Homo sapiens: one gene and its partners. The protein of the gene in region 2 interacts with the protein of the main gene of each other region in a biochemical or structural test. Each region holds a gene or a part of one and is shown on either strand. Other genes may lie near its edges. The genes, in order: CUL4A, DCAF1, LATS2, CCP110, MCM10, HLTF and CEP78.

Region 1 (4,539 bases), on a different chromosome or scaffold from region 2:
GCTCTCCCTATACAAGGGAGACCCTCTATTTTCCAAACAAACTTCACCTTCTATTCAGTGATAAGCCACACATTTTACAAGATGTGGCTGAGGCTGGGCGCGGTGGCTCACGCCTGTAATCCCAGCACTTTGGGAGGTTGAGGCAGGCGGATCACGAGGTCAGGAGTTTGAGACCAGCCTGACCACACGGTAAAACCCTGTCTCTACTAAAAATACAAAAATTAGCTGGGTGTGGTGGCGCGTGCCTGTAAGCCCAGCTACTCAGGAGGCTGAGGCAGGAGAACTGCTTGAACCCGAGAGGCAGAGGTTACAGTGAGCCGAGATCGTGCCACTGCACTCCATCCTGGGGGACAGCAAGACTCCATCTCAAAGAAAAAAAAAACCCAACTACCCGAGAGCAGAGCGGGCGCCCTGGTCTGCCACACTCTACCCCTGAGAGCAGAGTGGGCGCCCTGGTCTGCCACTCTCTACCCGAGAGCAGAGCAGGTGCCCTGGTCTGCCACACTCCACTCTTGCTCACCTCTGCTTCGCGCTGGGCCTGATTGTTTGCAGTGGCAACAGGAGACTTGCTCCAGCTGGTGGGAGGAAGGGGCAGTGAACCTGATGGTGCTTTTGGAGCTTCCCAGGGCCCTGAGGACGGCACCTCACCTCTGCAGGGAAGGGGGCAAATGTGGGCTGATGGACAGTGGCACTTCCACCAGACTCTTAAGTGTTCGACTATTTAGTGCATCTCAACTTTATTCCCTTGATGGAATGGGAGGCTCAAACTGCACAACATGGAATCTGGGGACTTTCCCTCCAAAGCACGTGTGGCCGGTCCTGTCCCTGAGAGGCCAGGCGTCATCAGAGTTCAGTATTTCCTGGGTTGATAAATACATGTAAAAAACGTTTCATAATACTTTCCCGGCTTATCCTGCATCCCACACGTGGCAGGACAGTAAATCTCAGTTCTGAAAACAACGCGGGTTGACAGGCCTGGGCTGACTTTCATAAGCAACAGCAACAGTAGACTATTACCGTGGTGGAAAACGCGGTGTAGGCTGTAAACGCTGAGTAAGTTAGTTATTGTTATCATTTCCTTAAAATCTTGTGATGTAACCTTGACCGCTACTACTATGAGAAAAGTGTTCAGCTTTCCATGTCCCATCTACCTCTTCCCTTCCTGAAAATATGAACAAGCGCGCACCATCCCTGGGAAGGAGAGTTTTAGGGCTCTATCATTTCTGCAGTGGCAATGAGCAACACCTGGAATAAAGAGCTTCACATTTGCCAGTTTTTCTACATTCAGTGTATACACAAAGCACCATGAATAATGCAGGTCAAATGATATGACTGAACATAGAATTAAACATGCTTTGTCAATTGTTTAGCAAATACTACAAATTTAATTATGCTAATGTTACATTTACCTTTACTGGAAATTTCAGCTGATTATATAATTCAGAAACTAGAAGATTATGACCAAGAGTCTTTCTCATCTTCATTATTCTGACGATAGCAGCATCAATCTGATATTGTCTATCCTGAAACACTCTCTCAGTGGTGCTAACCTGTTCCTCAACCTGTATAAAAAAGAAAAAAAAAGTTAAGTGTAAAACTGTATTTTCTTTTTATTTTTTGCGATGGAGTCTCACTCAGTTGCCTGGGCTAGAGTGCAATGGTGTGATCTCGGCTCACTGCAACCTCCGCCTCCCAGGATCAAGCGATTCTCTTGCCTCAGCCTCCCGAGTAGCTGGGATCACAGGCACCTGCTGTCATGCCCGGCTACTTTTTGTATTTTTGTACAGGCAGGGTTTCACTATGTTGGCCAGGCTGGTTTTGAACTCCTGACCTCAGATGATCCGCCCACCTTGGCCTCCCAAAGTGCTGGGATTACAGGTGTGAGCTACCACACCTGGCCTATATTTCAATATTAATGACCTGATGTTACCGAATTTGATGGGAAATGGTTTTTTTTTTTTTTTTGAGACGGAGTCTCACTCTGTCACCCAGGCTGGAGTGCAGTGGCGCGATCTCGGCTCACTACAAGCTCCGCCCCCCGGGTTCACGCCATTCTCCTGTCTCAGCCTCTCAAGTAGCTGGGACTACGGTGCCCCCCCACCATGCCCGGCTCATTTTTGTATTTTTAGTAGAGACAGGGTTTCACCATGTTAGCCAGGCTGGTCTCGATCTCCTGACCTCGTGATCCACCTGGCTCGGCCTCCCAAAGTGCTGGGATTACAGGCGTGAGCCACCGTGCCTGGCCGGAAATGTTCTTTTGATGCAAAGAAAGGTCAGACATTGGATGAATCCTACTTTATTATGCATGTTTACTTGTTGTAGTAAAAGGTACCTTCCCAGAATAGCAAAACTCCAAAACCAAAACTTAAAAAATATTTTTAAAAGTTATTTTCCTTATAAGAAAGCTGCAACAACTCTATGTGTGATGTAGATTAAAACTAGCAGCACAGTAAACAAAACATAATGACCATCAGGATATATTCCAGAAATGTTAAGTGTTGATCAACATTAGGAAATCTGTGAATATAAGTGAGAGCACTGTAGCAGTTGAAAGGTTAGATTACATGACCATCTTGATAGATGCTGAAAAGGCATGATAAAATTGATTTTTTGATTTAAAACAAACATTAGCATACAAGGATGAATAAAAAAGCATCTGAACATGATAAAACATGGTTATCAGAAACAAACAGCAAATACTAGAGACAACTTAACCTTAGTCCAACAGGAACCTGATGGGGATCTGCAGTTGAAATGAGGGCTGGGGGAAGGTCTGTGCATACATATGAGGCAAGTATGCTTCAGGATGGGAGAGACTCCAAGCTTTCATCACATTTTCAACAGGATCCATGACCCCCAAAAAGTTAACATCCTCTGAACTAGAGATAAAATTAGGAAGCTCAGCTGCACTGCTATTCCTTAAAAACATTACTTTAGAGGTTCTAACTATGCAATACAGGAACAGACTAAAGAGGTATATTGAAAAGGTGCAGACAAAACGATCATTATTTGTAGATGAGCTGGAAAATCCAAGAAAATCAACAGAAAAACTTTCAAAGCTAAAGAGTTTTGTAAAGTGGCTGGAAATAAAATAAATATACAAAGACAAATAGCATTAATACATACATTCTGATAAAAACCGTCAGAAATGTAAAGAAAAAAGGTCCCCTTTATAAGATATCAGCATTTCATTAGCCTGTCTTGCTTAAAACTCTAGTGGTTTTCCAAATGCTTCATGGATCTGAGCCATCTTCAGAGGGTCCAGCTGTGGCTCCCTGATCAGGCCTGTCTGGCTCAGCTTCCCCTTTTGGCAACGATGCTGCAGCCAGAGGCCTTCTTTCAGTTCCTGAGCAAAGCTAGTCACTTCTTCAGGAAAGCGTTGGCTGACGACAGTATTTAATTAGACTCTCCTGCACTTCTCTATCCTAACATTTTCCTCCACTCTTACAAGTTAGTCAATGTGTGTGATCCTCTGCTACCTCTCTGCTGGAAAAGACTGAACACTCCTAGAAACAAGGACTTATTCTTTATTGTTAATGGATGAATTCTCAGTGCTTCACAGAGGACCTGGGCCACCACAGATGCTCAATAAGTATTTGTTGAATGAATGAAAATTTATGACTAGCAAGAAATATGCAAGACTTACAGAAGAAAACTAGAAAGCTCTGAGAAAAAGATTTGTATGTATTTACATATATACACATATGTATGAATCACAAGATTTAATATGATAAAGATAAAAGCTCTGTAAATTAATGCAATATGGATTAAAAATGTCAATGTTCTTATTTGGGGGAGCAAAGGCGTGATACAATTATTGTCAAGTTCATTGGAAGAATAAAGTTATAGGAATAGCTACATTAATTAAAAGAACCTGGTGCCGGGCACGGTGGCTCACGGCTGTAATCCCAGCACTTTGGGGGGTCAAGGTAGGAAGACTGCTTGAGCCCAGGAGTTCAAGACCAGCCTGGGTAACATGGCAAGGCCTCATCTCTACAAAAAATACAAAAATTTAGCTGGGCGTGGTGGCATATGCCTGGGGCTGAGGTGGGAGGATCGCTTGAGCCCAAGAGGTTGAGGCTGCAGTGAGCTATGATCACACCACTGCACTCCAGCCTGGGCGACACTGTCTCAAAAAACAAAACAAAACAAAACAAAAAAAATGGCTGGCTATGAAATAGACACAGAATTTATAGAAGAGAATTGAGAAACTGACCTATATGAATTTGATACATAATAAGGTGATAATTCAAATAACTTGTTCAAGGATGATATTTTAAATTTGGTTTTGGAAAGGATGGGGGCAGTTAGACTGTTTTCAGATACTAAAATAATTTCTGCAACATGAAAAGAAAGATTTAAATGTAAAAACTTCTAGAAAAATAACATAGTATAAATGTTTTTTAAAACTCTGGTTAAGGGAATTTCTCTCTTAGGCCAATGATATGGTTTTGAATATGTGTCCCCTCAAAATCTCATGCTGAAATGTGGTCTCCAGTGTTGGAGATGGGACCGGGTGGGTGGGGGCAGGTCCCTCAT
Region 2 (4,539 bases):
AAAGCAGAGCATAACCTCTATTAAGCACTGTTCAGCAGAAAGAAATCTCAAAGACCACTGACCTGGTCCTCCTCTTCATCCTCATCCTCTGCCAGACGCTGCCTGCCCACTTCATACAGCCTGCATACTGTGTCCATGTTCAGGGCATCCATGCTGCCTTGATTCTGAAATAGAACATCCAGTCCATAAGGAGCAGTTACTTTTCAGAAGGTCCACATCCACGCCTCAGCCCTGACTGGTGCCCATGACCTTGACCCTGTAATTATTAAAGCTTCTGATACCCGAAATTCTTGAGCTGACTATGAAAATGTTATACCTAGGACACATAAAGGGGAAGAAAAACAGAATGAAAAGACTTGGTGAGGAACCATCACCCTTGGAACAAACCAGTCTTGCTCTGGTGAGAGATCCAGATTCCTCTGAGAAAGGGATGACAGTGTGAGTCCAGAAAAAAAGGAGACAGGATCCTCTAAGCTGTCTTATATTGGGATTTTCTTACTATTTCTCTTTGTACTGTACATCTCCCAAGCCCCATCAAATGAATAGGTTATCAATAATCTACCTTCAGGAATGTATTGACTTTACATCTTATATCAGACAAAATGTCTGTAGTACAACTTGAAAATTATCCTAAACATCAGAACAAAAGAGCAGGGCCTCTGCAAGCTCCCTTTACCTCAATGACAGCAAGATAGCAGTCTTTGGTGTCTGTACACAGGTCAAAGATGTTCCGTTTCACATCAATGGTTGCTGGAAAATAGAATGTGAGAAGATTGGGATTGGACTATTGCTGTGACCCTAAAACCTGCTTTTCCTCTAAAGGAATTCAGGATGATTGCTCAAAAGTATTTCCATAACTTCTCTGTTTTTCAATAAAAAATTACAGGCCTCCAGAAAATGAAGGATCTTAAATAAGGAACACCAAAACACGACAAAATGTTCAATGTCTGTCCCTTTCTGCTTACCTATAGGTTTGTAGTCAGTTGCATTAAATGTTCGGAAGGATGACCCAAAGGGGCTTTTCATCCTCTCTTCCATTAAGTCATCTTCATCATCTGCCTGCAACATAGCTTGAGGGGGAGTGGGGGAGGAAACACTATTAGGAATCACAAACATCCCCTCTTCACAAGTGCAGAAAATGTTAATGGCCAATCAAAACAATCTACTTGCATATAGGTTTACATACAAATTCCCTTGTACAGAAATCTACTCTGCATCTAGTTAGCTCCTCTCAGAGCATCTTCCTTGCATATCCCACCTATTGTGACAAATAATATCCTCAGCCTCTCATCTACCTCCAAGAAGTGTTACTGTACTTACAAGGCTTATAACAACACAAGAGGACAAATGCAAAAGCTCTTAAGTTCATAATGATACACTGGAAAATACTGCATGAAATTTCTTTCCATACAAGATTTCCTTGTTATCTTCAAAGTAAGCTGCCTTTCACCCTAAACCAACATTATTTTCATATCTTTTGTCACCATTCATACTATCAATTTTTTATCTTTTATGTTACAACTCTCAAATGCTTTCCAATTCACAAGTGAGAGATGGTTCCAAAAAGAAGTATCAAATTAAGTGAAGGGGTAGAGCAAAAGGAAAGAGAATAATGAAGGATAAGGTTTATTACCTCCATACATCACTGTTCCCGTGTGATTGAACACCACGCGACACTGATCCAGAGCGGGAACAGTATGCAAAAGATGAAAAGTTCGAAGGTCCCACTAGGAGGGGAATGGTCAAGGAAAACTATTTTACACAAAACTTATCTAATCTCATGGGAGGAAATTCTAAAATATCACTTTTTTTCCTCCTGCCAGGTATTGATACTTTAAAAGTCAATGAGATCAAGGTAAAACAAATACATGTAGAATGCATATTATTGAATGATGTCTCTGAAAATATCCTAGGGTATCCTCATATACAGGAATGCTTTATGAGCTCTTTTCCTCCCAACAGTAGTACTTCATTTTCCTCTTATGTGGCAACTGATTTTTTACAGAGCAAAAGTAAAATCCTTCTGAAGACAGATAAAAGCTAATTCAATTCTTGGAGAACTGGGAGGTAGGAAACTGGTCACTCTTACCAAATACATAGAAAACATGCTAGTGAAAGTTGTCAGTAATTACTAACATTGGCAACAGTGCTTTGGAGATTTCACTAACATTTCAAACCAAAGGACAGGCACCATATTATTACCAGTGTGGACACTTTAACCAGGTATTGGTATAAAGATAGAACAAATTATTTCTGCACCACAAACCAGACAACAAATGGAAGGTAAGACATGAGTATAAAGGATACAATCTCAGTATTAATGATCACCTCCAGTCCATTTGGATGGAAAACACCACTGATGTTCATATTGAACTTGTCAAACTTGTGGATGGCCTGTGCAGAGCGGACATCCCAGAGGACGCCATCATTTAAGACAAGATCATCTGTAGGATTAAAGGTGGCACAGTTCCTCTTGTAGTTGTTGGCAAGATCTGGGTTAAACAGAGTCAACAGCTTGTTGCCAGTCTGAATATCATAAATCTTTAGAGAAGAAGGGATGGGAAGAGAAAAATCAGACCAATCCATCCACTGACAAATTAAAGAGAAAATGTGCAAAGCAGTTTCTAAAATTAACACACAAATTCTCCACATGGATCAATGATTACCACAGAATACTGCCTCCCAAAGTGCTGGGATTACAGGCGTGAGCCACCGCACCCGGCCAGGCACCTCTTTTTCTCGGGGTTCCATTCTGCCTTACTGGCCATTATATTTGATTTCCTTCCCAAGTTCCTCATTTGGCAACTCCTAAACACATGCCAGGGTTCTATACCCACAACTCTTCTCTAGTCCCCTTGATGATCTCATATAAGTTCATGGCTGTAAATACTATCAGCTGGGGACAGTGACTCATGCCTGCAATGCCAACATTTTGGGACACCAAGAAAAGTGGATCACTTGAGCCCAGGAGTTCGAGACCAGCCTGGGCAACGTTGGGGAAATGCCGTCTCTACAAAAATACAAAAAAATTAGCCAGGTGTGATGGTGCTCGCCTGTAGTCCCAGCTACTCAGGAGGCTGAGGTAAGAGGATTGCTTGAGTCCAGGCAGTCAAGGCTGTGGTGAGCTGTGATCGTGCCACTGCACTGCAGCCTGGGTGACAGAACAAGACCCTGTCTCAAAAATAAATAAATAAATAAATACTGTCAATATGTGGACAAGTCCCATATTTATATTTCCCAACCCACACCTCTCTCTTGAACTCCCAATTTTTTGTTGTTTTTATTTTCAGAGACAGGGTCTCACTTGGTTACTCAGGCTGGAGTACAGTGACATAATCATAGCTCACAGCAGCCTCCAACTCATGGGCTCAAGCAACCCTCCCGTCTCAGCTTCCTGAGTAGCTGGGACTATAGGTCCCAAGCCCACCAAGCTCAGCCAATTTTGTTTATTTTTTGTAGAGATGGGGGGAGTCTCTCTATGTTGCCCAGGCTGGTCTCGAACTCCTGGCCTCCCACCTCAGCCTCCCAAAGTGCTGGGATTACAGGCAGAAGCCACTAAGTCTGGCCAGCTCCCAACTTTTGTATTCAATCCCCATTCTCTACTTGAATGTCTAAGAGAATCTCAAATTTCATGTGTCCAAAATCCCAGGGCCAAGGTCCTCCATTTCTCATAGCCTCTACCATGCCTACCCAGGCCCAAACCCACAGCTCCTCTCATGTGTCAGGTGGTACAACACCCTCTGACCTGGAAGGCTGCTCTTGCTTCTCTCACAAAAACCAGAGTCACACTTCAGGAACTTTACATCCACTCATGTATCCTCTACTCACCCACCAGTGTCTTCATCTCACTCAAAAAAAAAGCTAAAGGCCCTAACTACCACCTACAAGATGCTACCAGATACAGGCCCCTCACTGACCTCAGCTCTCCTCCCACCTCCCAAGCAAGGGCTTTTCCCTTGCCATTTCCTGTGCCTTACGCTGTTCCTCCAGGTATCTTCCTGAATCTCGCGTTTCCTTCAAGGCTCTGCTTAAACATTACCCCATCAGTGATGCTGTCTACCCTAGATAAAAGAGAAGTCCCCCACACCACCACCAAGCATTTCCTACCTCTTACCCTGCTTTCATTTTCTCTGAAACACTTACCACCTAAATTTACCGTATATTTGCTTCTTTATTGTCTCCCCAATGAGGGTCCATAAAGGCAGGGGTTTCATTTCTAATCTAAAACTTACTAAGAATTCAAAAATATCTGTGGTGCTAATGACATCTTTCTCAATGTCACATTTAGCCCTTATACATTTTTCCCATACAGCTCAGAACTATATTATCATACTTTTAGATTCTAACTAGAAGGAATATCACTGATTTCTAGTTGCCCAAAGGACTTAGGTCCTCACATTCTATCAAGAAGATTTCAGTATGAACAAATGGGTATGATCAGCTTGAAAACAGTGGTTCTTAAGTACTTACGTGGGCAATGTCTCCTTTTGTGCCGATGACCCGATCCTGGGAGTGCTTACTGAACTCAACATAGTGATC
Region 3 (4,539 bases), on a different chromosome or scaffold from region 2:
ACAGTTAGACACATCATCCCAGAGGTCGCTGGGCTCCATGCTGTCCTGTCTGACATGGCTCCCTTCACCCAGGAATCAGGGATAGTGAAAGAAAAGAACAAAATATAAAGTGAATTTTCACTCTTCAATAACTCAACAGATCCACAGCTTAAAACAGCAAAGTCATTCCAATCAGCTCCTGACATATCAGGACAGAGAATCCCCGCTGAGCTGCTCCATAGGGGCAGCCTGCTGTTCCTAGTTTGGAGACACACGTGGTGAGGTTGGCGCTAGCACCAAGGTAGAAATGACGGTGAAGAATCACAGGACACCATGCACCGTGCTGAGCTGGCAGGAAGGCACTGCAGGCAGGAGAGGCTGGAAGAACTGCGGGGACAGCACTCCTAGCGCTTAGGCCATAATCAAAAGGTAACAACTGCCTGACACATGTTTTAAGATGAGCATGGAAAACTTAGGAGGATTTAAACAACATGAACAAAGGTTACTTCAATGCCAGAAAATGAGAATGAATTAAATGATTTAGAGTTAGTTTTGAGTTAGAGAAAAAAGACTAAGTGATGATATTAAAATAACTACTTCAAGAATCTCAGCCATAAAGAAGATAATAATCAGCTGTTTTTGGCTTTTCCAAATGGCAGAACTATAGGAAATGGAGTTCAATGATACACTACATAGATGCAGGTTGGCTATAAGAGAGGGCTCCTTGGGAGGCTGTGACTCTTTTATTTATTTTATTTTATTTGAGACAGAGTTTCGCTCTTGTTGCCCAGGCTGGGGCGCAATGGCGCGATCTCAGCTCACCGCAACCTCTGCTTCCCGGGTTCAAGCGATTCTCATGCCTCAGCCTCCCAGTAGCTGGGATTACTGGCATGCATCACCACGCCCGGCTAATTTTGTTATTTTTAGTAGAGACGGGGTTTCTCCACGTTGGTCAGGCTGGTCTCGAACTCCTGACCCCAGGTGATCCGCCCACCTTGGGCTTTCAAAGTGCTAGGATTACAGGCGTGAGCCACCATGCCCAGCCAAATCTTTTATTTTTTAAGGCTTGCTTTAATGAGGCAGGTGATGGTTCCCCACAAAGGCCCCGTGACACCTTGTAGCCTACTGTCTTAAAAATATAGTAGGCCAGGCACGGTGGCTCACACCTGTAATCCCAGCACTTTGGGAGGCGGAGGCAGGCGGATCACCTGAGGTTGGGAGTTTGAGACCAGCCTGACCAACACGGAGAAACCCCGTCTCTACTAAAAATACAAAATTAGCCAGAGGTGGTGGTGCGTGACTGTAATCCCGGCTACTCGGGAGGCTGGAGGCAGGAGAATCACTTGAACCCAGGAGGCAGAGGTTGCAGTGAGCCGAGATCACGCCATTGCACTCCAGCCTGGGCAACAAGAGCGAAACTCTGTCTCAAAAAAAAAAAAAAAAAAAAGTAAACCTGAAATCCACTACCTTAAAAAAAAATGCATATCACACTATTCCTTTTGGAAGGGAAGGATGTCACACCAATTTATAAAATAATGGAGTGACAGATAAAAATTTCAAAATGATTAGGAGCCACTAGGATGGGAAATTTAGTTGCTTGCAATGGGGTTAGTGACATCTACACATAGAAAGTGCATGTGGCACACTTCAGACAATACCTTTCTGGTAATATTTGGAATTGTGAGTCCACCTGAACCCAGTGCAGAGGCCGAAATCTGTGAGTTTAATGTGACCATCCAGATCTATCAAAATGTTATCAGGCTTGATGTCTCGGTGGATGAAGCCCATCTTGTGGACACTCTCAATGGCCAAAGTCAGCTCTGCGATGTAGAACCGGGCCAGGTGCTCAGGGAAGACCTCCATCCGGATCAGCAGGCTCATCATGTCCCCACCAGGGATGTAGTCCATCACAAAGTACAGGCTGTCTTTGTCTTGGAAGGAGTAGTAGAGTTTGACCACCCACTCATTGTCTGCCTCGGCCAGGATGTCCCTCTCGGCCTTGACGTGGGCCACCTGATTCCGGTTCAGGACATCCTTTTTCCTTAGGGTCTTCATGGCGTACAGGGCGTGAGTGTCCACCTTACAAGCAAGGCACACTTCTCCAAAGGCACCGATCCCCAGGGTTTTGATCTTGACAAACATAGACTTGTCCATCTTGGCCCTCTTTAACCTGTTGTAATTAGACTCTTTCTGGTAGAGGATCTTCCGCATCTGCTCCTGCTCAGCTTCACAGAGTCCAGCCTGTGTAGAAGGAAAAGGAAGGAGGAAGAATCACATTAGAGAAGTCCCATGATAACAAATGACTGGGATGGGGATGCCCTGGAACTGAGAGGAACCTAGCTCATTTTACAGAAAGGAGAACAGAGAAGAATGGGTCTCATATACTACAGAGTCTCGCTCTGTCGCCTAGGCTGGAGTGCAGTGGCACAATCTCAGCTCACTGCAGCCTCCGCCTCCTGGGTTCCAGCGATTCTGCTGTCTCAGCCTCCCGAGTAGCTGGGACTACATGTGCCCGCCACCATGACACCTGGCTAATTTTTGTATTTTTAGTAGAAACAGCGTTTCATCATGTTGGCCAGGCTGGTCTTGAACTCCTGACCTCAGGTGATCTGCCCACCTTGGCCTCCCAAAGTGCAGGGATTACAGGCTTGAGCCACTGTGCCCGGCCAGTTTTGTTTTTTTATATCCATATATAGACATGAATATGGAATGAAAAGTTAAGATAAAAAAGAAAGTTCTTTCTCTAGGATACTTTTGGCTCTAAAAACTAAGGGAAACTTCTATTAACACAAATCTGTGGAAAAGGGGACCACAGCATTCCTAGAACTCCAAGAGCCATCTAATCTTTCAGTAACTCAGGGAAAATGGGAAAGCAGGAAGAAAAGTCAACAATCAGCATACAAAAATCAGTAGCATACATTAGATAGACTTGTATATGGTGAGAGATAGGGTCTAGTTTCATTCTTCTGCATATGGATATCTGGATTTCTGTACACCAATAATGAATGCCATTTACAACAGCTATAAAAAAAATCTAGGAGTAAATTTAACCAAAAAGTGAAAGAGCTCTACAAAGAAAACTACAAAACACTGAAGAAAGAAACTAAAGAGGACACAAACAAATGAAAAGAGATCCCATGTTCACCGACAGAAAGATTTAATATTGTTAAAATGACCATACTACCCAAATCAATCTACCAATTAAATGCAATCCCTATCAAAATACCAATGATATTTTTCACATTACTAGAAAAAACAATACTAAAATTCACAGGGAGCCCAAATACTCAAAGCAATCCTAGGCAAAAAGAACAAAATTGTTACCTGACTTCAAAATATGTTACAAGCCTAGAGTAACTGAAACTGCATGGTATTGGTATAAAAACAGACACATAGACCAATGGAACAGAATAGAGAACCCAGAAATAAGTCCACGTATTTACAGCCACCTGATTTTTGACAACGGTGCCAAGAATGTACACTGAAAAAGAGACATGCTGGGAAAACTAGATATCCATATGCAGAAGAATGAAACTAGACCCCAATCTCTCACCATATAGGAATGTCAACTTAAAACAGATTAAAGACCTAGAAATAAGACCAGAGGCTATGAAAATATACTCCAGGACATTGGTTTGAGCAAAGATTTTTATGGCTAAAATCTCAAAAGCACAGGCAAAAAAACCCCAAAGTAGACAAATGGGACTATATTAAGCTAAAAAGCTTCTGCAGAGCAAAGGAAACAACAGAGTAAAGAGGATACCTGTGTTGAACAGGAGAAAATATTCACAAACTATTCATCTGACAAAAGACTATTATTCAGAATATACAAGGAACTCAACTCAACAGCAAAAAAAATATCAAATAATCCCATTAAAAAGTAAGCCAAAAGGCCAGATATGGTGGCTCACGCCTGTAATCCCAGCACTTTGGGAGGCTGAGGCAGGCGGATTACTTGAGGTCAGGAGTTTGAGACCAGCCTGACTAACATGGTGAAACCCCGTCTCTACTAAACATACAAAAATTAGCTGAGCATGGTGTCGCACACCTGTAGTCCCAGCTCTCAGGAGGCTGAGGCAGGAGAATAGCTTGAATCCAGAAGGCAGAGGTTGCAGTGAGCCGAGATTTCACCACTGCACTCCAGCCTGGGCAATAGAGCAAGACTCCGTCTTAATTAAAAAATAAATAAATAAAATAAGGCCAGGCGCGGTGGCTCACACCTGTAATCCCAGCACCCTGGGAGGCTGAGACAGGTGGATCATCTGAGGTCGGAAGTTTGAGACCAGCCTGAACAACATGGTGAAACCCTGTCTCTACAAAAACATAAAACTAGCTGGGCGTGGTGGTGCATGCCTGTAATCCCAGCTGCTCGGTAGGCTGAGGCAGGAGAATCACTTGAACCCGGGAGGCGGAGGTTGTGGTGAGCTGAGATCGTGCCATTGCACTCCAGCCTGGGCAACAAGAGCGAAACTCTGTCTCAAAAAGAAAAAAAAGTGAGCTAATGACCTGAATAGACACTTGTCAAAAGAAGATACACAAATGGCTAAGAGGTGCATGGAA
Region 4 (4,539 bases), on a different chromosome or scaffold from region 2:
AAATCTATCATAGAATCTTAGGTTTTACAGGTGAAGCAGAAATCTAATTGTATTATATAAAATTTTCCTATCTGAATAATTAATTCATTACAGTTCAACATTATACATGCTCTTTTAACAATTTTATTAGTAGTATATTTTATCTTCCCTCAATGGACCAAGAATGATATGCCATTTTCATTTCAATCACAGGAAATACGTAGTAAGTAAAAAACCTACCTCTTATTGTTAAATTAGTGCTACTCAATACATTTTTTAAACTTAATATGGACAGTAATTATAATCTGCAAAATGAAATCTACTACCCACACACTATATACTACTGTGAAAGGGAAATAATATCTCAGGACCCCAAACTCAACTATGTCACATGAGAGTCACTATGACTCTCATTAACAATTCTCTTAATACTACCTCTCAGCCTGCGTCTAGATTGTTCTCTTTCTATATATTCCTTTGACTTTTTCATCAGATTCTGAAGACTCATTACATAGGGATTTCGAGTAACTGAAATGGAAAATCACATGTCAAAGGAAAAAGTAAAGCTTAGGAACTGAGTCACACAAAAACTGCCTTCCTTTTATTCCTAAACAGATAGCTGCAAAATAGAAGGCCACCTATCTACCCAGGTAGACTCTCTTGCAAATTGCTCACAAGGAAATTCCTCGTAGGCCCCAAAATCTTTACACCAACCCAGAGTTCTGCTGAATTTCACTCTGACAAGATACGGACAAAGACCAAAGATGACTAGAAATCATCCCTTTGGAGACAAATGTATATTTGACTTCTTCCTCTACTCTGCTTACTTTATCCTATGTAAAATGCAGATTTATTGAGCTTGAGATGAATGCATAACTGACTGTTCCTCTACCCCCACCTTTCTCATGCGACTTGTGGATTCAGTGAGTGCTAATCAAAGCCTCACAAAAATGTGATCGCTTATCTCATTACCTACCCTCCTTTTTTTTTCTTTCCTCTTTCCCCTCCTGCTGTTCTCTCCCCTTTATACACTGAAGTCCTCAAAACCTCTTCTGGAAAAGCATAAGCCACAGATTCTACTGTAACTTTTGTCTCTTTTTCCTTGGCACATCCTCAACCTTGGCAAAACAAACCTCTAAATCGATTGAGACTTGCCTCAGTCATTTTCTTCAGTTTACACTACCAACAGAGAAATGAACCCTTAAGGTTCATTATACACGTGTCATCGATACGAATTAAACAGACAAACCACAAACTCCTAAGATTATGAAAAAACAAAAAGATGTTACCAGCAGAACACTGCTATATGTTGTAGAAATTATTCGTTCAATCTAATTCATTTGTTTTTCTTTTTAGTACAAAATGATCCACATGTCAGAACAAATTGTTTATACAAATCTAAAAATAACTGCACAAGGTGTAGATGTGTTGTTTAAATAGTTTTTAGACATAGGATGCATCTAAACAATTCAATGTTATCTAAACTGCATTTTGTGTATCTAAGAGTTTTCACCAAAAAAAAATTGGAGGCAGTTATTTACTTAAGCAAAGAATGAGAATAAGGTCATTTAGTCAATAGTCTAATTAGTTTGGGGTAAACAATAATACCCAATTCTGTCATTTTGTCACTGAGAATTCAATGTTTTTAGAGTCATAAGATGCAAACAATAAGCAATTATATTCAGTGTATGGTTCTATTGTGTAAATATCCTCTGATTCAAGTACTGGGCATTACTAACAAGCAAGTACATTCTCTTTGGAGTAACTGAAATGGAAAATCACAAATTATGAAGCTTCTCAAACGTAACAGTAAAGTACATTAGTAATTAGTTAAGTGCAAATATATTTCAGAAAAATTATCATCAACGCTTATCTTATGATTTCTTTATTATAACTGAAACAGCTAAAATCACACACCTGAACATTGTCAAGAATCTCCTGGACACGAGTCAGTAAAGCTTTCTTCCTGTTAACCTGCTTTCTTGCTTCTACATCAAGTGCTTTCTGCTTTTCTTGTTGCATTTCCTTTCTTTTCTCAATGTTAAGCTGCAAAACATCATAAAAATGTAATTATTTCCCACGATAAAAATATCATAAAATCGGGAAGTTGTGAATCAGAAAGATTAAAAACATGTGCAACAGGCAAAACTAATGTATAGTGAAAGAAATCAGAACAATGGTCTGGGTACTGAGTGGGATGGGGCATTAGAGATCTTTCCATGGTGAAGAAAATCCTGTGTGGGTGTGAGTTATACATGTGTATGCCATATATCAAAACTCATGGAACTTTAACACTTAAGATTTGTGCATTTTGCTATGTGTAAATTATTTTCAGTTAAAAGGTTAAAAAGAAAAAAGTTTGTTCACTAATCAAATGTTCTAAAATGACAGAAATAAAATTAAGGCCCTTTTGGCCACTGCTGAGTTTTTTATTACTTCACTTGAATATTGACTTGAATATTACTTCACATTCAGTATCCTTTTTTTTTTTTTTTTGAGATGGAGTCTTGCTCTGTCACCTAGGCTGGAGTGCAGTGGTGCGATCTCGGCTCACTGCAACCTCCGCCTCCTGGGTTCAAGCGATTCTCCTGCCTCAGCCTCCGGAGTAGATGGGCTTACAGGCGCGTGCCACCACGCCCAGCTAATTTTTGTATTTTTAGTAGAGATGGGGTTTCACCATGTTGGTCAGGCTGGTCTCGAACTCCTGACTTTGTGATCTGCCCACCTCGGCCTCCCAAAGTGCTGGGATTACAGGCGCGAGCCACCGCGCCTGGCCCATCTTCAGTATCTTATTTCACTGGATCAACTGGATTCTACAACTTTTAATTTTCTAACCAGTGCACAATTTAACTCTTTGCTGCCTCAAAAAATGTCCAAAGGTTTAATGATAAAATAAACAGATAATATATTATTTGCCTACAAAAGCAGAATACATCTTTTCTTTCACCTCACTCTACCTTCTGATAAAAATATAATGTACCTAAAAAATGGAAGGCTTCTAAGCATTGTATCTCTTTATAATGGATTTCAATCTTAATTATTAAGTCCTGGGAAATTAAATCACTGTTAACAGTCAAGACTTATCGTAGACTTACACAAATAGAAAATATATCATTAAAAAATTATTTCAAAAGTTGCAATATTCACCTATCAAATACAACATAAAAGTGTGGATTAGGTCCATAAACATCACATTTTGCTTATAAATAAATAACAGACGGAGTCATAGACCCTACACAACAAGCCTCAGACATTTTGGTCCACATTAAATCAAGCAATGTGTTATCAAATAGCTGATAAATATGTTGTTTTAAAACTTTTTCCTAATTGCATGGTACCAAAGAATGATTATACAATTTACTTGCTAATCAAAAGGAGAAAATGTGTACTTTAAAGAGCCATCTGGCAGTCACTACTGTAAGCAAGTGTTCAAACTAAACATCACTAATAGAGGGCAACTAAACATTATGTAACTTCTGATTTAATTTAGTATGAAGTGCAGGGCATCATCTCCAAAGAATTCCTTTTTTTTTTGAGATGGAGTCTCAGGTTGGAGTACAGTGGTGCGATCCCGATCCCTCCTGGGTTCAAGCGATTCTCCTGCCTCGGCCTAACGCACAGCTGGGATTACAGGCACCCACCATCATGCCTAGCTAATTTTTATATTTTTAGTAGACAAGGGGTTTCGCCATGTTGGCCAGGCTGGTCTCGAACTCCTGACCTCAAGTGATACACCCATCTCGGGCTCCCAAAGTGCTGGGATTACATTTTTTTTTTTTGAGAGAGGGTCTCACTCTGTTGCCCAGGCTGTTGTGCAGTGGCTCGATCTCGGCTCACTACCTTTGCCTACTGGGTTCAGTGGATCTTGGCTCACTGCAACCTTCGCCTCCTGGGTTCAAGGGATCCTCCTGCCTCAGCCTCCCACATAGCTGGGATTACAGGCATCCACCACCACGCCCAGCTAATTTTTGTATTTTTAGTAGAGACGGGGTTTCGTCATGTTGGCCAGGCTGGTCTCAGCCTCCCAAAGTGCTGGGATTACAGGCATGAGCCACCCCGCCCAGCCCTATCTTCAAAGAATTCCAAAAATCTTTAACCTGTTTATCAAACTTCACTTCCAGTTCATAGGAACTACAGGGACTAGAGAAACAAGTTAAATAACACTATTAGGAAACAATGGGACAAATCCAAGATCTAAGGAATTCTACAAGACAATAGCTCTGGTCTCTTTAAAAATTCAGTATCATAGTTTTGTTATTTTTTTAAAGACAGTATCTCACTCTGTCACCCAGGTTGGAGTGCAGTGGCATGATCAGGGTTCACCGCAGCCTCAGCCTCCCGGGCTCAGGTGATCCTCCCACCTCAGCCTCTAGAGCAGCTGAGACTCCTGGTGCGCGCCACCACACCCAGCTCTTTTTTGTATTTTTTGTAGGGATGAGATTTCACCACGTTGCCCTGACTGGTCTCAAACTCTGGGGATCAAGCAATGCAATCCACCCACCTCAGCCTCCCAAAGTGCTGGGATTATAGGCGTGAGGCACCATGCTCAACCAATAAAAA
Region 5 (4,539 bases), on a different chromosome or scaffold from region 2:
CCACTTCTCCCCACCACCTCATCAATATCTGATGTGTCACTTAAATATTTTTTTGTCAATCTGATGGACGATTTAAAAAGGCATCTCACTGTTTTGATTTGCATTTCTTGGATTACTGGTGAGGTTAAGAATTGTTTGTTTATTTGCCAATCGGATTTCTTCTTTCTTGATTTATCTATTTTCTTTGCTCTTTTTTCCCCCCTATTTGGGCACTATTTGTTTATAAAATCAGAGGTATTCAATGGAAAAATATTAAGGATATCTGACCTACTCTCCTTGTCTGAAATTCAGGGGCTAGAGTATGAGAGGGTGAGGGGCTTGTTCAGGATCACATGGAGAAACAGATCAGTTCAGGAGCTGGGTTAATAAGGAATCTCTAGATCAGCAAACCAATATCCTTTCCACCACTCTACACTCCCTTACCAGAAGGAAAAAGCCAGTAGCCAAACTTCAGGCCTAGAATCTGATGATGGGGCCTAATGCTCAGTCAGAGGTTGTATAAGGATTAGCTTGAGTTGCTTAGTCCACAAAGACTCCAAGGCTGCACAGTGCAAGAGAGAAGAGGCCAGGCAGCCCCCTGTGCTCTGAGAATGTCACATGCCTGCAAGGAAGCAAAGAGGCCTCCACCATCTCTTGTTCCCGTCTGCCAAAGAGGGCACACCCCGGGAAGAGGCTCTGGCTCACACCACTGGGGGCCACAGGTGGAAAATGCTGCCTGGGGACCCCATACTATTCACTTTGAACCCTTCACAAGAGAACGAGGGCTAATCCCATGGTGCCTCACAACCCCGTTTACCTCAGTCACCACCAAAAATCATGTCTTCTCTGTATTACGCTGACTCAATCTCCCAGCCTCTTTGTTCTCAAACCCCTGGGATGTGAAATCTACTATCAGCACGTTTCTCGGATCCCCAGTGGCTCTTACAACAGAAATCTGGCTACCCCTGGAAGCCTCTTGAATGGAAAGCATTTAATTGTTCACACCTCACATGGCAATGTCTAGAATAGTGTTCGGCACGTATTAGGCATGCAACAAATACTTGTTGATCAACTTCAGGTTCCTGATGTCTTCTTTATCACTGTCACTTTGGAATGATTCAGTCTTTTTCCAGATCACAGCTCTCTGAAGTTCAAGACACCAGACGCTGGCATCAAGAACCCCTCATGGCACTGTCATGTGCTGATCATCATATGTGTATCATGCATGCCCCCCCCGGTCCTCCCCTCCATCTCTACTGTTATCACCCTCCTGGGGCACTTCAACCTCCGCAAGGATGATCCAGCCAACATCTTGGTCGCTGGGTTTCTCATCCACTCCCCATCTTAGCTACCCACTCCCATAGTAACTCCAACTCATCACAGCAAAGCACAACTGACCTCTGAACGTCCCTCTGTGATCCAACCTCCCATCCTTTCAGCCCGCTCACTCTAGTATTCACATCCAGCAGCTCTTCAGCTTCATCCACATGTCTAACCCATCAGCCTACCTACAATGTGTTTCCTGTCCATCACCCCCTGCCCCTAATGCCCTCCCTGTGGATCCATGTTCAACACCATCATCACTCACTGCCTTCTAAAGACTCAGCTCCCTGGCTGGTGAATGGTCCTGGAGAAAGACTCGCTACCATGCTGACTGGTCTTTTTTGTTTGTTTATTTATTTATTTATTTTTCAAGACAGGGTCACACAGGCTGGAGTGCAGTGTTGCAATCTTAGCTCACTATAGCCTCAAACTCCTGGGCTCAAGCGATCCTCTTGCCTTAGCCTCCCAAGCAGCAGGGACTAGAGGTGCACACCACCATGCCCAGCTTATTAAATATTTTTTTGTAGAAATGGGGTCTTGCCATGTTGCCCAGTCTCGTCTTGAACTCCTGGCCTCAAGCGATGCTCCTGCCTTGGCTTCCTAAAGTGCTGGGACTACAGGTATGATCAACAAGACCCTGCCTCAGTCTAACTTTAAATTTTTGCACACCCATAACAAACAAGCATTCAGCACTGCTTAAAGATTCCCACACTTCCTCAATTCATTCGCTTTCCCAGGCTCTGACCACTTCACACTGTCTCTCCTCAAACCTCCTATGCCCACTCCCCACTCTTTACTCTTAGCTGATGATATATATATATATATATATATATATATGTATGTATGTATTTTTTTTTTTTTTTGAGACAGAGTTTTGCTCTTGTTGCCCAGGCTGGAGTGCAATGGCACGATCTCGGCTCACTGCAACCTTCACCTCCCAGGTTCAAGTGATTCTCCTGCCTCAGCCTCCCGAGTAGCTGGGATTACAGGCATGTGCCACCACGCCCAGCTAATTTTGTATTTTCAGTAGAGATGGGGTTTCTCCATGTTGGTCAGGCTGGTCTCGAACTCCTGACCTCAGGTGATCCACCTGCCTTGGCCTTTCAACGTGCTGGGATTACAGGCGTGAGCCACAGCGCCCAGCCCTTGGCTTATATTTTACAGAAAAAATAGATGTAATCAGACTTCCTCATCCTTCACTCCCAACTCTGAACGTATCTTCTCTGCTTTCCCTCCTGGGACTAAGTATCTAGTGCTATTCACAGCCAATTCTTCCACTTACATTCTTACATTGGGTCCCACTTCTCAGCTTCTCAAAGACTTCATTCTACAATTACCACCTCTCTGGCTCCTGAATCCCCAGTTTCTCCCTCTCCTCTGAAGCACTCCTGTCAGCATACAAAGACATAGCAGTGTCTCCCATCTACTAACTACCCGTTTATTGTTTTGTTATCTTTCTCCCTCCACTAAAATATAAGCAGGAACATTGTTCAACAGTATATCCCAAGTACCATACAGTCTCCGATTTCCTCTACACCGGCCAAATTGTGAACCCATGCCAATCAAATGAGATTTTCTTACTAAATATTATGATTTCTTTTTCCTCTTTTTTTTTTTTTTTTTCAGATGGAGTCTTGCTCTGTCACCCAGGCTGGAGGTGCAGTAGTGGGATCTCGATGCAATGCAACCTCTGCCTCCCAGATTCAAGTGATCCTCCAGCCTCAGCCTCCTGAGTAGCTGGGATTACAGTCACATGCCACCACACCAGGTTAATTTTTGTAGTTTTAGTAGAAATGGGGTTTCACTATGTTAGCCGGGCTGGCCTCGAACTCCTGACCTCAGGTGATCCACCCACCTTGGCCTCCCAAAGTGCTGGGATTACAGGCATGAGCCACCGCACCCAGCCTAAACATTATGATTTCTTCTTTCTTGACCTATACTGTTTCCAGATAGATACTATGATTTCTTAGAGAACAGGTATCCATTCACCTCTTATTTTCATGTCAATCTGATAGCAAAAAGTGATGCTTTGTATTATATAACCTGCCCTGTAGGCAATTTGCCAATTTTAAGAAACAGGAAACTACCATGATAGCATCAGGCAATGAGTTTCACATAAGGAATAACCCCTTATCTGAGGGTTTATTTTCTGTGGTTTTGATTTTCCATGGTCACTGTGGTTGAGGACAGTACAATGGATATTTTGAGAGTGCAATAGATACTTTAGAGAGAGACCACATTCACATAACTTTTATTACAGTATATTGTCATAATTGTTCCATTTTATTATTGTTGTTCATCTCTCACTGTGCCTAATTCATAAATTATACTTTATCACACGTATGTATGTACAGGAAAAAACACAGCATGCCTAGGGTTTGGTACCATCCTGGGTTTCAGGCATCTGCTGGGAGTGTGGAAACACATCTCTCAGGGACAACGGGGGTCCACTGTGCATCACAGTGTGAGGAATTTCAAGTTTTGTTTTAAAGGGCAAAGTGTAATATGTTTGAATTTTTTAAAAAAACCCAGTTTCAGATTATGAGTTCAATTATGCAACTAGATCTCTTCACAACCAGCACAATCATTTTAATTTTTTAAAAATAGAAATGAGGTCTCACTCTATTGCCCAGGCTGGTCTTGAACTCTTGGGCTCAAGCAATCCTCCCACCCCGGCCTCCCAAAGTGTTGAGATCACAGGCGTGAGCCACTGCGTCCAGCCCAGCACAATCATTTTAGGTGATCGCTAATTAGTGCAACATCTCTTTTCTAGGTAAACATTTTGTACACATCCTTGCAAAATGAACAAAATTAGAAAGGATGATATTAATAAAAACTTAAGTCAGAGCTAGACTAATATCGCTTCAGCAGATTTCATTATCAAATGTAAACTCTGAAGTCAGACTGCCTGGTTCAAAGCCCTGCTATGCCAGCTTGAACTGTGACAAGTTACTAAACATCCCTGTTTTTCTGCCTATAAAATACGTTTGCCTGAGGACTGAATCAGTTAATTTCCACAAGGATCTTGGAGCAGTGCCTGGCCCACTGTACACCTACCAGCTATTGTAATTATGAAAGACAATCTCTGTTGCCAGAAGAAATCTCCCCTGATAAAAGCAAGTAACATTCAGTGACCTCTGTGAGATGTGAGATTGCTTCAGAACCACTAAGACAATACCTGAGGGCTGGGGAGCATTTTCACCATTTTACAGGTAGAATAAATAACAAGTCCATGGA
Region 6 (3,493 bases), about 98 Mb from region 2:
ACAAATATTGGAAAATCTTTTCTAGGGAGTCCAGAATACTAAGGGTTACTTAGTAAAATGTATAAAAAGGCAACAGTAATTCAAATTACAAGATTTATATTTGCAGAGGTGATCCATATATACTTATCCCCTTGCAGTGGCTGGTATGACCTTTGGTTGTAAGACAAACTTGCCCACAACAGAGGTCAAATCCATGCCTTTGGAGATTAGCTCCATGGTGGATGGAGCTATGGTTTATGCATAAAGTAAATGTTTGTTTACCTTAATTCTCCTTATACCCATATTGTCCTGCTGTATAACACATTTTGCAGATATTTTGAAGTTAATGTGTTAAAAACTTGAGGTTAAACATTTGAGTTTTTGTTAAGAGCCAAACATCAAATGTGCCCTTATATTTTTAATGAATCTCATCCAAATGCTAATGCATAAACCTTGACAAGTAGTATAAATAAAACAAGAAAAAAATACAGCAATGTCTTTGCCATTCCCCAAAACAAAGCACACACTGCCGAAGATCATTAGTACTCACTGGTAACAAACTACATAGGGTTAGTTTGTATTTCCAATTCTAGAGCTGTAATTTTAAGGACAAAATGTACAATGATTGATTAAGAGTGCTATCTGTGTATATATAGGTATTATCACAACTCCTTTTTTTCTTCCAGATGAAGAAATTAATTGGGACCAATGTTTTTAGATCAAGGCATTTTAAATAAGCACTCTTGATTTCTGAACAAGAATTTCAACCAGCTAAATTGAGCAAAATAAAGTTAGTTAGGATATGAGGACATTATTCTGTTACAGTAATCTTCATGTACTCTCAAAAAAATGTAACACTTGCATAGAAATGTCACAATTAATGAAGGATTTTATTTGAAGATAAAGTCAAAATTATGGCACCGAGGAAGGTAATAAACATTTGAAATTTTTATTGATTTTTAAATTTAAAATCCAGTTTTAACCACAAAATTGTTTGAATCACAAGTGGTAATACAATGTCTTCAATATTTTTCTAAAGTTATTTTTCTATATAATAATAAGACAACAGCATAGCATATAGGAAGTTTTCATTCCAGTGGCTTTTTTATATATTTATCCTTCTTAGGAAGGACAAATTAAATTTTTTAAATTAAACTTTTAAAATATAACAACATCTAACAGAACTGTACAAAACAAAGAGACATTTTTTAAACAACTTGCCAAACTTACTTATGAGTGTGTTTTAAAAACAACTTTGTAAATGTCTGGGCAAAGAAGCAAGCTGTCCTCCCTTTACCTTCATAGTGAGTTTGTAAGGCTTTGTCTTTGTAAGCAGAAAGAGTAGACTGTGTTGTTTTTTGCCAAAAACTGTTTATACTTAATCTCACTGAAGTATTGCTATATGGAGAACCCATACTCTGATCAACTTGATTTTTTGTGTGTAATGCTTGATCTACCAGGTAACTTCCCAACTGCTCCTAATGCTAGCGGGCTAATCCCACATTATTATTCCACTATCATCCCTGCAGAAAGGTCTTGGTTTTGATGAAAATCAGCCCTTTCCTTACCTGCTACTGCCTCAAAAAGGGACCAGGAAGATTCTAGCTGGCTAATTCACTGTTCCCTTTGAGCAAGAAAACGGCACAGGGAGAAAAGGACTTATCTGGTGAGAGATTTGGCATATACCTTCAATGTGTGCCCTATAACACAACATTGTCTCCGATCTCATCTTTCTATCAAATGACTTCCAACACTCTTAAGTCTCAGGTATTCTTAAATCTGTATCATCAAACATGAAGCTTCTCTTGTTTGTTAGAGTAATTAATCTTTCTTTGGATTAAAGTTTCCCTTTGAAATAAAACCACCTACCTAATCTGACTGCTAAATTTCTAGCTTCTTTGTTTTAAATATGCTCAGGAGTCAACCCAAATTCTGCAGCAAATAAGTTTGCTTATTAACAAAAAAGTAAAAAAAAAAGAAAAGAAAAAAGATGACTAATTCTACAGATAGCTGTAAGGATGAATTACTCAAGTTCAAAATCAAATTCTGATTCTAAACACATAACAATTGTTTACATTCAGGATTAAGATGTCTTTAAGAGTTGAAACGACTTTGGAGATCATCCAGCCCAACTTCCATCCAGATATCACGCCTCTCACATATAGTAGTCTTCTGAATTATAAAAATTTATAAAGTTACTTCCAAAAAAAGCTACATAAATAAAAATTATCTATTTATAGAAATATCTATTTAGCAGTTCCATAATTTAAAATATTCAAATCAAATTGGGTAGGACTGGTTTGCCTCTCACTCCCACAGACTATATTTATACCTCAGACACAGCAAGTTACATTTAAACAATGAGTGTAGTACTACTTAACTAAAATGGAAAAAATAGTACTCTTAACATAATCCCTAATTTTTTCATGAACATAAAACTCCAAGTCATTTATGTGAACTATATCTCAATGTAGCTGTAGGAAAAATAAAAACCTGTGCTAACCTGGACTTTGGTCTCATTTAAGATTTGGTTCTGGAATGCAAATATGGTTTTTGAAAGCCCAATAAAATTAATTCTTGTATAGTCTGTATATATTGTTTACAAGGACTACAAACACTGCATCACAAATCGGAGGCTTTGGTAAATAACTAAGTGTCCAACATAGAAAATAACTATTTGGTCAAAAGTATAAAAGGTCTGACCTTATTTGAAATACGAAAAAGCTGAGTACTTGGAAGATACGTGAAAATACTCAGCATAGATATTATGAAAAGCTGAATAACAAAGTAACCTTTTTTCTCAAATTATTTCAGGCCACAGTATATAACGGAACTTATTGCTATTTGAAGTTTCATTAAAAATAGGTTCATATATAGAAGAAATTGTGTCAGTAATACCTCTTCACTAATATAAAATATGCCCCTTTTAGAAGACGTGTTCTCTAGATCTCATTTCTAAAACTCTGTATTTTTCTCATTTCTAAAACTTAAGTATCCAATCAAACTGACCTTACTAAAATCCCACAAATTATAAGTCAATTAATGTTCTGATTTCATTAATTTTGGCTTGTTTCATTTCGTCAGCATTTGGTTTTTTAGTTCCAAAGGCTCCTGCTGCAAGTTCTCTCTTTTTGTTTTGTATTTTCAGCATATTTTCTTCAACAGAGTCCTTTACAATGAACTTTAAAAAGAAAAAAAAAAGTTAAGTAGTTTTTAAGGCATAGTATTTAAAATCTTTATTAAAAAAACTAAATGAAAGATTTGCCTAATGGCAAAAACCGCAATTACTTTTGCACCAAACTATAATAACTATTTAATAGAACTGAACTTTGCTTTCCTTACCCAATATGGTTTTCTTATATAAAGAATATGGCTGTACGAATAGAAGTTACAGATCACAAGATAAGCAAAGCAATAAAGAAAAAAAAAGCAAACTATATAGGCAACTCTGGCAAAATGACTTCAGCATTGTATTAAAAAGGCCATTCTGGCCGGGCACGGTGGCTCACACCTG
Region 7 (4,097 bases), on a different chromosome or scaffold from region 2:
AACCACTAGGCCTTAAATACTATGGACTTCACATATAAGACAACTGATTTCCGGCTGGGCACAGTGGCTCATGCCTGTAATCCCAGCACTCTGGGAGTCTGAGGCAGGCAGATCACAAGGTCAAGAGATTGAGACCAGTCTGGCCAACATGGTGAAACCCCATCTCTACTAAAAATACAAAAATTAGCTGGGTGTGGTGATGTGCACCTGTAGTCCCAGCTACTCAGGAGGCTGAGGCAGGAGAATCGCTTGAATCCAGGAGGTGGAGGCTGCAGTGAGCCAGGATCGTGCCACTGCACTCCAGCCTGGCCACAGAGCAAGACTGTCTCAAAAAAAAAAAAAAAAAAGACTGATTTCAGCGAAAAGTTATTTAATATTTTTAAATATTTAATTTTTCAAAAACAAAAATGAATGGAATGGAAAGCCATAACAAAACATTTTGAGGCATTAGCCAATTTAAACTTGTAATTGTTATACCAACTAAATTGGAATTGGAAAAGAGAGCAACTGTAGAAAGTGATATAAGCCTAGGTGTCCCTAAAGAAGAGAAAATGAATACCATTTTTTTTTTTTTTTTGAGACAGAGTCTCGCTGTCACCCAGGCTGGAGTGCAGTGGCATGATCTCGGCTCACTGCAAGCTCTGCCTCCCGGGTTCACGCCATTCTCCTGCCTCAGCCTCCCGAGTAGCTGGGATTACAGGCGCCCGCCACCACGCCCGGCTAATTTTTTTGTATTTTTAGCAGAGACGGGTTTTCGCCGTGTTAGCCAGGATGGTCTCAATCTCCGGACCTCGTGATCTGCCCGCCTCGGCCTCCCAAAGTGCTGGGATTACAGGCGTGAGCCACCGCGCCCAGCCAATGAATACCATGCCTCACTTGCCGTTCCAGCCAGGCATCACAAAAACGGCCTGCAGTTTACTTGACTGTGAGCAGCAGTGTGGACCTGGGTAGAACTCACTCCTGCAGCCTCTCTGATACATAGTTCTGTTCTTTTATTATAGTTGGTGACAATAAATATTTGTGGAATAATATTTGTGTGGGAAAGATGCAAAGGCCACATGGTGAAGGAAGAAAACAGGTTTGGAAGTCAACAAATCCTGCTTTTGCCTTGTGCTACTTGAAGCCCTCAACCAAGTGAATCAATACCTCTCAGGCCTCATTCCTTCTTCTTTAAAATAATAACACCTTTTACTCCTTGTAGGTTTGCAATATTTGGAATAATATACAAAAGTGTCTCCTATCTGGTTACAATAAGGAACTCAATTCTTAGGTAAGATTTAGGTGAAGTTTGGCTTTGGTATAAAGAAATTAGAGCTGGTTATTTGGCAAACTGATTTTAGTGTTTTCAAACTCTACTCAAATTTTATCATTTAAGCTAGGATTATCTAGCTTTCAAGATTTTGTGGAGTTTTCTTGTTTTCTTAAGGAGATAAAAGCCGCCTTCACATTTCAAGGACTTTGAGGACCATCTTTCTAACACATTAAATAAACCAACTAATCTTCACTGGTCTCTCTGGAACAAGCTAATTATTATTTAATCTATAAGTGGGTCCTTATCTATTTCTAAACTACCAAGGTTGCCTTTTTTTTTTTTTTCAGTTCACAGTGGTTTAAAATGTACAAACTGTACTAAGAGAACTCGGGCATTCTCTGAGCCCTTTCAGCCCCTATCACTCACTATGTGCCTTTGTGAGCAGCCAGCCATACCTTCTGAGCACCTCAGTCACAGGGCAAAGTCTTCTTATTTTTTAACTTTTTGACCAAATTATATGTGAAAATTCTCAGGTAGATGTATCAGTTTGAAAACTCAGGTTTTCAGTGTCACAAAAGGGTTCTGAAAAGGGAAATCTAAAGAAAATTACCAGAAGACTATAGAGAGTTAAAGAGCTCAAGGAAGGTAGGCTTTGGAAGTAATTTGCAAATGCAGAAATGACTTTTAGCCATAAAATAAAACAAATGTGGGAAAGACTTGCATTGCCCCACGAGTAGCAGTTTTGTCAGGGGTAAACAGAGCAGATGTTTGAAACACTCTAGCCAGTGTTTCCAAACAGTAGGACATTACCCATTAGTGGATTGTGAAACATACTTCGTGAGTTGCCAACATAATTTTCTTTAAAGGCAAGGAATAGAACAGAACATGAATTAGTCACTAGAAGTACAATCAGAGTTGTTTGATGCAATTTTCCATTAATTATACGTGCACACAAGGAAGGTGGGGCCAGGACTACTACTTTTAACTTTGCAGAAAGCTTCATTTTTACTGTGGGTTGTGGTTAAGTTAAAAACATTTGACTATGCCATGTAGGCGACTCCAACACTTCAGGAATACAAAGCTCTGAAAAGAGGTTATGTAGCAAAGCTCATTTTCATTCACATTGATAATAGGTCAGACACATTTTTGAAGAAAAAAATGGACAGAGCGTAAAGGATAACAGAGTACACATTTTCATTTTCTATGATGAAAAGGAATTTTAAAAATTGTCTGTTGTACATAAAAACTTTTTTTTTAAACCAAACAACCTAGAATTAAATGGAGTAAAATGTGAGAAGCCCCCCTTTTTTCCTCCTTCAGCAGACAAAACCGCTGTCAATAGCTTGATATGTGTTATCACAGACTCTTTTCTAGGGTGCACACACGCATATATGCTACGTATAGGTAAACAAGTTTTAACTATACAAATGTAAACAGGAGTGCGTGGTTACTGTGCAACTTCTTCGTCCTGTCAATGTCTTAGAAATATTTTCATGTCCACACTAGAGAGCTATTGTCTTTATCTGCTGCAGAGTGTTATATGTCAGAAATTGGTATGTACTAATTCAACAATTTCTGCATTTCTGTACATTTATGCTGTTTCTAGTTTTTTATTATCTCAAAAAACACTTCACACAGTCTTGTATCTGACTCTTTGGGCACTTGTGTGAATATTTCTTCAGGCTGGATGCCTAAAATTAGTCATTAGATCAAAGGCTGGAGACATTTCACATGTTGATACACACTGTCAAACTGTCCATCCAAAAGCTGTATCAATTTCTACAATGACTGAGAATACTCCTTTCCTCACATTATCTCCAGCACTATCACCAATCTTTAATAATCTGCCATTTCAATGTATTGAAAAATAGTATCTCATTTTAACTTTAATTTTCCTGATTGCTTACGAGGTTGAAAGTTTATGTTTATAGTCTGTATTTCTTATTTATAAAATATTTTTATAGCCTTTGTCCAATTTTTGTTGTTTGTAGGTGCTCTTTATATTATCTTAAATCTTCTGTTCTATTACATGTATTTTCCCACTCCTTTATTTATGAAATCTAATTTTATCAAAGTTTTGTAAAAAGTGAAAGGTTTTACTTTTTAAAAATGTAGTCAAATCTATCTTTTTTTTCATGGCTACTGGGTTTTGTGTCTTGGTTGGGAATGCCTTTCTTACACATTTATTACAATTTTTTTCCAGTATTTTCTTCTAGTTATTTTTAATTTCCATGTTTAATTCATCTTGATTTTTTTCATCCATGATATGAAATAAGAAAAAGTAGTAAATAACCTCAACATCATTTACTGAATAGTTCAAACCCTTCTCTACTGACTTGTGATGCCATTTTTTAAATACATATATATATACATTGCTCTGTTCCTAGGTTCTCGGTTCTATACCTGTGATTATTCCTGTGTGAACAGCACATTTACCCTAACTCCATGGATTGTTTTGAGATGTAATCAAAATTGCTTTATGCCTGATGACTTTCAGATTAATGTTATAATCAGGTTATTACATCCATTTAAAAAGCTTTACTGTGGTTATATGAAATTGCTTTGAATTTATAAATTAATTTGGTAGAACTATTTATTATGTTGGGTCTTATACATGGCATACCTCTATTTTTGTGTTTCTTTTATACCCTCTAGCATAGATTTATCCTTTTATTTATATAGGCCTTACATTTCTCTTGTTAATCTTATTTCTAGATAATATTTACTTCTCGCAGCTATTGTGGATGAGAGTCTATTTCCTCATACATTTTCTAATTGGTTATTGCTGGTGTACACACTTTTCATACCGGTGTGTTGGTGTTGTGCACAGCCTCCTTATTCAGCT

The links.
Region 1: the proteins of DCAF1 (region 2) and CUL4A form a complex in vitro, tested with the Homo sapiens proteins (one study listed by BioGRID).
Region 3: of the proteins of DCAF1 (region 2) and LATS2, one has a biochemical effect on the other in vitro, tested with the Homo sapiens proteins (one study listed by BioGRID).
Region 4: of the proteins of DCAF1 (region 2) and CCP110, one has a biochemical effect on the other in vitro, tested with the Homo sapiens proteins (one study listed by BioGRID).
Region 5: of the proteins of DCAF1 (region 2) and MCM10, one has a biochemical effect on the other in vitro, tested with the Homo sapiens proteins (one study listed by BioGRID).
Region 6: of the proteins of DCAF1 (region 2) and HLTF, one has a biochemical effect on the other in vitro, tested with the Homo sapiens proteins (one study listed by BioGRID).
Region 7: the proteins of DCAF1 (region 2) and CEP78 form a complex in vitro, tested with the Homo sapiens proteins (one study listed by BioGRID).

What each region holds. Positions count from the first base shown.
Region 1 is NC_000013.11:113,257,630-113,262,168, reverse strand, and holds part of CUL4A (cullin-4A), read right to left. Parts: intron 1,563-4,539; coding exon 1,410-1,562; intron 1-1,409. UniProt on the Homo sapiens protein: Core component of multiple cullin-RING-based E3 ubiquitin-protein ligase complexes which mediate the ubiquitination of target proteins. As a scaffold protein may contribute to catalysis through positioning of the substrate and the ubiquitin-conjugating enzyme.
Region 2 is NC_000003.12:51,412,317-51,416,855, forward strand, and holds part of DCAF1 (DDB1- and CUL4-associated factor 1), read right to left. Parts: coding exon 4,471-4,539; intron 2,542-4,470; coding exon 2,308-2,541; intron 1,728-2,307; coding exon 1,634-1,727; intron 1,071-1,633; coding exon 966-1,070; intron 751-965; coding exon 677-750; intron 165-676; coding exon 63-164; intron 1-62. UniProt on the Homo sapiens protein: Acts both as a substrate recognition component of E3 ubiquitin-protein ligase complexes and as an atypical serine/threonine-protein kinase, playing key roles in various processes such as cell cycle, telomerase regulation and histone modification.
Region 3 is NC_000013.11:20,981,587-20,986,125, forward strand, and holds part of LATS2 (serine/threonine-protein kinase LATS2), read right to left. Parts: intron 2,221-4,539; coding exon 1,638-2,220; intron 63-1,637; coding exon 1-62. UniProt on the Homo sapiens protein: Negative regulator of YAP1 in the Hippo signaling pathway that plays a pivotal role in organ size control and tumor suppression by restricting proliferation and promoting apoptosis.
Region 4 is NC_000016.10:19,529,902-19,534,440, reverse strand, and holds part of CCP110 (centriolar coiled-coil protein of 110 kDa), read right to left. Parts: intron 2,026-4,539; coding exon 1,897-2,025; intron 1-1,896.
Region 5 is NC_000010.11:13,164,262-13,168,800, reverse strand, and holds part of MCM10 (protein MCM10 homolog), read right to left. Parts: intron 1-4,539. UniProt on the Homo sapiens protein: Acts as a replication initiation factor that brings together the MCM2-7 helicase and the DNA polymerase alpha/primase complex in order to initiate DNA replication. Additionally, plays a role in preventing DNA damage during replication.
Region 6 is NC_000003.12:149,029,213-149,032,705, forward strand, and holds the end of HLTF (helicase-like transcription factor), read right to left. Parts: intron 3,161-3,493; coding exon 3,008-3,160; 3' UTR 915-3,007; downstream 1-914. UniProt on the Homo sapiens protein: Has both helicase and E3 ubiquitin ligase activities. Possesses intrinsic ATP-dependent nucleosome-remodeling activity; This activity may be required for transcriptional activation or repression of specific target promoters.
Region 7 is NC_000009.12:78,276,566-78,280,662, reverse strand, and holds the end of CEP78 (centrosomal protein of 78 kDa), read right to left. Parts: 3' UTR 973-4,097; downstream 1-972. UniProt on the Homo sapiens protein: Centriole wall protein that localizes to mature centrioles and regulates centriole and cilia biogenesis. Involved in centrosome duplication: required for efficient PLK4 centrosomal localization and PLK4-induced overduplication of centrioles.